Regions from separate parts of the Homo sapiens genome. Here region 2 is linked to region 1. Evidence: fine-mapped expression QTL. Tissue or cell type: follicular helper T cells. Region 1 holds a variant in brackets; the other region holds the start of a gene. All regions are shown on one strand. Distances are between the middles of the regions.

Region 1 (2,680 bases):
CTTTATAGAGCTCTAGATCGAAGGGTAGAGCTGATGGGGGGCTGGGGAGGTGCAAGGCCTGTGAAGAGGGAAGGTAGGAAGATTGAAAGAAGAGAAGGTGGAAGGCCCACACAAGGAACAGTGGGGGCCCAGCTGCACAAATCAAAACTGTGTGGCACTGTTAGGGCCACTCTGGGGCAGCTTGCAGTCCAGGGCTCCCGCACCTGACTCTTGCCCTCAGAGCATCTGTAAAAGAATCACAGTCCAAATCCCATTGCCAGGCCCTCTTTATAGTCGGACAGCCTTGTTTCTCAGCAGGAAGCCTTACCTGTTCTGAAGTCCCTCACCCTTGTGGGGCCTCTGCTCTTTCCTTGTGCAGCATCAACATCACCAACATTCAGCTGGACTGTGGTGGGATCCAGATATCATTCCATAAGGAGTGGTTCTCGGCAAATATCTCACTTGAATTTGACCTTGAATTGAGACCGTGAGTCATACAGAAGCAGAATCTGAGAGGTGCTGGCCCTCCTCGCAGGGAACCTGGGAAATTCAGATCTTTCTGATCCCAACCTAAATTCAAATCCTGGCTTCCAAAGCCACTTGCTGTGTGACCTTGGGCAAGTCACTTCACCTCTCTGAGCCTTGGTTTCTTCACCTGAAATATGATGACAATCATTAGTCAGTGGAAGGAAGTCATTTGCTCATTCAAACCTATGAGAGTTCACAACAACTGGGCTTGATTAAAGAGAGAAAGGGAGAACTGCTGTAATCATCTCATCGCCCCTGCTCACCATCCTCCTGTTCAAACTATCCTTTGACATCCACTGCCCCCAAGAAAGGGAGGATGCAGCTAAATGGGAAAGATTTTTGAAACAGAGATTAACTCTCAACGTTTGAATTTCCAAAGGCCTATTTAAGGGGTTTTCAGAGTCACTCTGGCTACAGCTGTTTTCTCTTTAATCACTGACTTCAGGATTTAACTGGGCCTAGTTTGTTGAAAGGACTCAGAGTGCCAGGGGAAGCCCTAACGGTGGACAGTGCCCGTCTTTGCCAATACGGAGATTTCTACTCTTTCTCTACCTCCTCCCCTTGCCCTTCCTCCTCTTCCTCTCTCATCTGCAGGTCCTTCGATAACAACATC[G/A]TAAAGATGTGTGCACATATGAGCATCGTTGTGGAGTTCTGGCTGGAGAAAGACGAGTTTGGCCGGAGGGATCTGGTGATAGGCAAATGCGATGCAGAGCCCAGCAGTGTCCATGTGGCCATCCTCACTGAGTAAGACCCCAGCTGCCCCTCCCCAGAGCTGGGCCTCCTTCCTGATGAGCCCCAGCTGCAGGGTCACTTCCTGACCGTCTCCTAAATTAGTCCAAAGCAGATCTCATCCTTCCCCCGGGATCTGCTCCTCCTCCCATGTTCCCATCCGTGATGACCCTACCACCCTCCCAGAAGCCAGACTCTTCTCCCTCCTCACTCCTCAAGCCCATCATCACAAGTTCCCATCAATGACTTGCTAGTAGCCCTCAGCTTCTCTCTTTTATCTCCATCTCCTACTCCACTACCTGGAGCACTACAGGAAACTCACCTGGCTTTCCCTGGCCCGGATCTCCCCTCCTACACTCCATTCCTCATCCTGCAGCAGAAATAACTTTCTAACACAGAAATCTGGCCATGCCCAAGCCCCTGCTCCAAAGCCTCCAGTGGTTCCCAGTGCCCTCTGGGTAAACAGCAACTCCCAAATTTCACTCAAGGCCCTGCTTGTCCTCTCCCCTGCCAACTTTTCAGCCCTTTGTCCTCCACCACACACCGTACATTTTCACACCACTGTGCCTTTGCACATGCTGATCTTCTTGCCTGGAATGCCCGTCCCATCTTCTATGAAGCTCCTCCTTATCACTCATTCATTCATATATTTCCCAAAAACCTACTGTATGCCAGCACCACACCTGATGCTAGGGATACAGTGGTGAACAAGACACAAAATACAGCTTTAATAAAGCTCCATAGACTGGCTGACCAAGTCTTTCAATTTCAACTGACTGTAAGTCCCTTGAAGGCAAGACTTGTGCCTGATTTATCTCTGTAATTCCGGAATGCTGAAAGCAATGAAGACCTCAGTGGATGTCTGTTCATTTATTCATCAGATATTCATTGAGTACCTAGATTGTACCAGACATTCATGGGAGGACGGTGTAAGGGAAAGACTCTGGAATCTGGTGCTCTATTGCCATGTTTCTAATATAACCAGCACTTATTAGCTGTGTGACCTTGGGCAAGGTCTGAGCTACCCCTTTGATGATCACTGACAATGATACTTCTGGCATGGGGCTGAGTGAGGACTAAAAGACTGTGGAAAGTATACTCAACACATACCTCCTGGCTTTAATATTGCCTGGATTGCTCTGTTCTGTTCTGTGCCTCTACCTTTCTTTCTAGGGCTATCCCACCAAAGATGAATCAGTTTCTCTACAACCTCAAAGAGAATCTGCAAAAAGTTCTCCCACACATGGTAGAAAGTCAGGTAAGTTTAGAAAAAACTTTGCATCTTGAGCATCCTTGAGTCCGAGGGTTAGGGCATATATCCACTGGCAATTTAGCAAAGGATTTCAAACATTGGATTTTAGAGCTTGAAAAATCTCAATTTAAAATTTCAGTTTGGCCATGAGTTTTGCCAGCCTATCCTTGAGCAAGAGACTTTGCCTCCCTG
Region 2 (2,680 bases), 950 kb before region 1:
GCAAAACATATTTGTTCAGCAACTACTATTGACTAAGCTTGGTTCCAGGCATGGTGGATACAAGAGTGAACAAATAAAAGACTGCTCTTATGCAGTTTCTATTTAGTGGGGAACAGCAGGTGTAAGTTCCATGGGGGTTGGAACCTGCCCTTCTAGGCCAGTGTGGTTGGAATAGAGTTTTAACGAATTTTGCAGGAAGTAATAAGGACTTCATATTTGATTCTAAGAGCAATGAGACTCCATTAAATCGAGTATTAATCAGAAAGTGGCATGATCTGTTTTATTTATTTATTTATTTATTTATTTATTTTAATCTTTATATCTGAGACGGAGTTTCGCTGTTGTCGCCCAGGCTGGAGTGCAGTGGTGCCATCTCTCTCACTGCAACCCCTGCCTCCCGGGTTCAAGCGATTCTCCTGCCTCAGCCTCCCGAGTAGCTGGGACTACAGGCATGCGCCACCACGCCCGGCTAATTTTTTGTATTTTTATTAGAGACGGGGTTTCGCCATGTTGGCCAAGCTGGTCTCGAACTCCTGACCTCAGGTGATTCACCTGCCTCAGCCTCCCAAAGTGCTGGGATTACAGCGGGAGCCACCGCACCTGGCCGCATGATCTGTTTTAAATAATTACTCTGGCCACCTTATGGAAAATGGATTGTTCGGACAGAGCTGGACAAAAGAATGGAAACAGACCAGATATTTCAGGCAGGCTAGAGATGAGCGTGGCCTGGCCTTGCCTGGGGCGGTTGTGACTGACTGGATTGGGTGAAGGACAGGAAAGCTACAACAAGGGTGCCTATAGGTGTTCGTATTGAGTCACTGGGGGCACCCTAAATGGGAGTTACCTCAGTAGCAGTTTGAGACACCAGTCAGATAATGGATGTGAAAGCTTTTAGAAAGGTTGAACGGCGGCTGAAATCGCGTGTGTTCCATTTACAGATGGGAAACTGAGGCACGAGATACCAGAGGATGGAGTCAGGCCACGTTGTGCGCCACTCTCCCCGCTTAGGTGGGTGAGGAGACCGAGGTGTGTTGGGCCCCCGCTAAACACCAGCACCGACCTGAGCCCCGCCCAGACCCCTCCAGCCGGCTTTCCCTGTCCTCTGCTCGTGTGCCAATAAAGTTATTGAAATTGACACCGGTTGCTAAGGAAGTGGGTCGCCGAGCCAGGTTGCTAAGGAAGTGAGCGGCCACTGTCTCTCCCCATCCGGGGCAGCGGGGAATGGCTGAGCCAGGGGTTCGCCGCCCCCGCCGCCGCCGCCGCCGCCGCCGCCGCCGCCGCCGCCCGCTTTCGGCTCGGGCCTCAGGTGAGTCGGAGGGGCCGGGCGCCCACCGAGCAGGGCTAATCCTGTGGCCGCCTGGGGTTTTCCCTGCGACCTGCGCCCGCGCCTCTGCCTGGCTTTGCTGTCCCGCGAGCCGGAGCATCCTCTGCCCTGCCTCCTAGGCATCCTTTGGTAGTCCGGACGGCCTTGCCCCTCCTTCCCCTGGCAGGGTCGCGGCCCGACCCCCAGACACGGCCACCTTGGGTCGCAGCCCACCTGGGGGCCCTGAGGCGGTGGTCAGGGCCCCAGTTTGGGAGGAGGGCGGGGAAGCGAGAGCCTGGGGTCCGAACCTCGGCGCTGTGCTGGGCTTGCTGTGTGACCTTGGGCAAGTCTTTTCACCTCCCTGGCCTTAGCTGACCTGTTTATTCAATGGGGTCCTAACATTGCTGCTCAGAGTGGTAAAGATAATGAGAAGTGTATGTGAAAGTGCCCTAAATGGGGAGAGGGAGAATTCTTAGGGCACCCTAGATGGGAGACCAAGAGGGCAGTTTGAAGTCTGAGCGAGTTAGAGACGTGGCATTTCCACTTAGTAACTGTGTGGCCCTGGGCAAGTTAATTTCTCTGAGTCTTCTTTTCCTTATCTGTGAAATGAGGTAATAGACTACTGTGGAAATCAGTGAGACTGGGTATGTCAAGTAGCTTGGCACATAGTAAGTGCTCAACCAGCTATTATGAGGCGTCCAGGGTAGGAGGGCAAGACTTCCAGGAGGAGATGACTTTGGGACAGGTAAGGTGTAGGTGTGTAGAGTGCCAGCTCATATGGGTAGTCCTACTGCAATGCCAACCCCCAACCCCGGTTTTACTTCTCCATTCTGCTCAGAGCAAGGGAGGTACTTCTACAAGTAGTCCTGGGAAACTCTTTGAGGTCAACCCCTTGTAGATAGCTGGGGTCATGGTCTCATTTTCTACCTGGGCTTCGTTGACCCTTCCAGAAGAAAAAAGGCATCTTTGTGTCCTTTGGGAAGTGCTTAAAGCAGTAATAACTATTTACAAGCATATGATTAAGAAGCACTTTACCAGGCATATTATTTCATTTAATCTTTATGTAGACTTTGCCAGGTGCCTGGTGATGTCATCCTCATTTTGCCGATGAGGAAACTGAGGTTCAGAAAAGTAAAGGGAAGGACCTGCTTAAGAATCCTTTTTTTTTTTTTTTTTTTTGAGACAGAGTCTTAGTCTGTTGCCCAGGCTGGAGTGCAGTGGCGCGATCTCAGCTCACTGCAACCTCCGCCTCGTGTGTTCAAGCGATTCTCCTGCCTCAGCCTCCCGAGTAGCTGGGACTACAGATGTTCACCACCTCGTCCACTAATTTTTGTAGTTTTAGTAGAGACAAGGTTTCACCATGTTGGCCTGGCTGGT

Alleles and levels. Positions count from the first base shown, and alleles are read on the strand shown. Sizes are in standard deviations (SD) of each study's normalised expression.
As copies of G replace A in region 1, the expression in follicular helper T cells of the gene that starts at base 1,192 in region 2 goes down (moderate effect, 0.52 SD a copy in Schmiedel 2018).

What was found. PIP is the estimated chance that this variant, and not a neighbour inherited with it, causes the effect.
Region 2: it holds the start of KIF3B, and the variant in region 1 is fine-mapped to the expression of KIF3B in follicular helper T cells (Schmiedel 2018, PIP 0.95).

What each region holds. Positions count from the first base shown.
Region 1 is chr20:33,223,997-33,226,676 of GRCh38, forward strand. BPIFA3 (BPI fold containing family A member 3) reads left to right here. Exons shown (of 7, transcript NM_178466.5): 3 at 359-466; 4 at 1,102-1,251; 5 at 2,410-2,494. Among named protein-coding and RNA genes, the nearest start is that of BPIFA3, 8.0 kb to the left of the region's middle. RefSeq lists an enhancer at 1-959. The variant G/A (reference allele first, on the strand shown) is at 1,121.
Region 2 is chr20:32,276,460-32,279,139 of GRCh38, forward strand. KIF3B (kinesin family member 3B) reads left to right here and starts at 1,192. Exons shown (of 9, transcript NM_004798.4): 1 at 1,192-1,306. LOC124904885 (a long non-coding RNA gene) reads right to left here and starts at 1,084. Exons shown (of 2, transcript XR_007067561.1): 1 at 845-1,084. RefSeq lists enhancers at 948-997, 1,044-1,554 and silencers at 1,208-1,367, 1,388-1,567.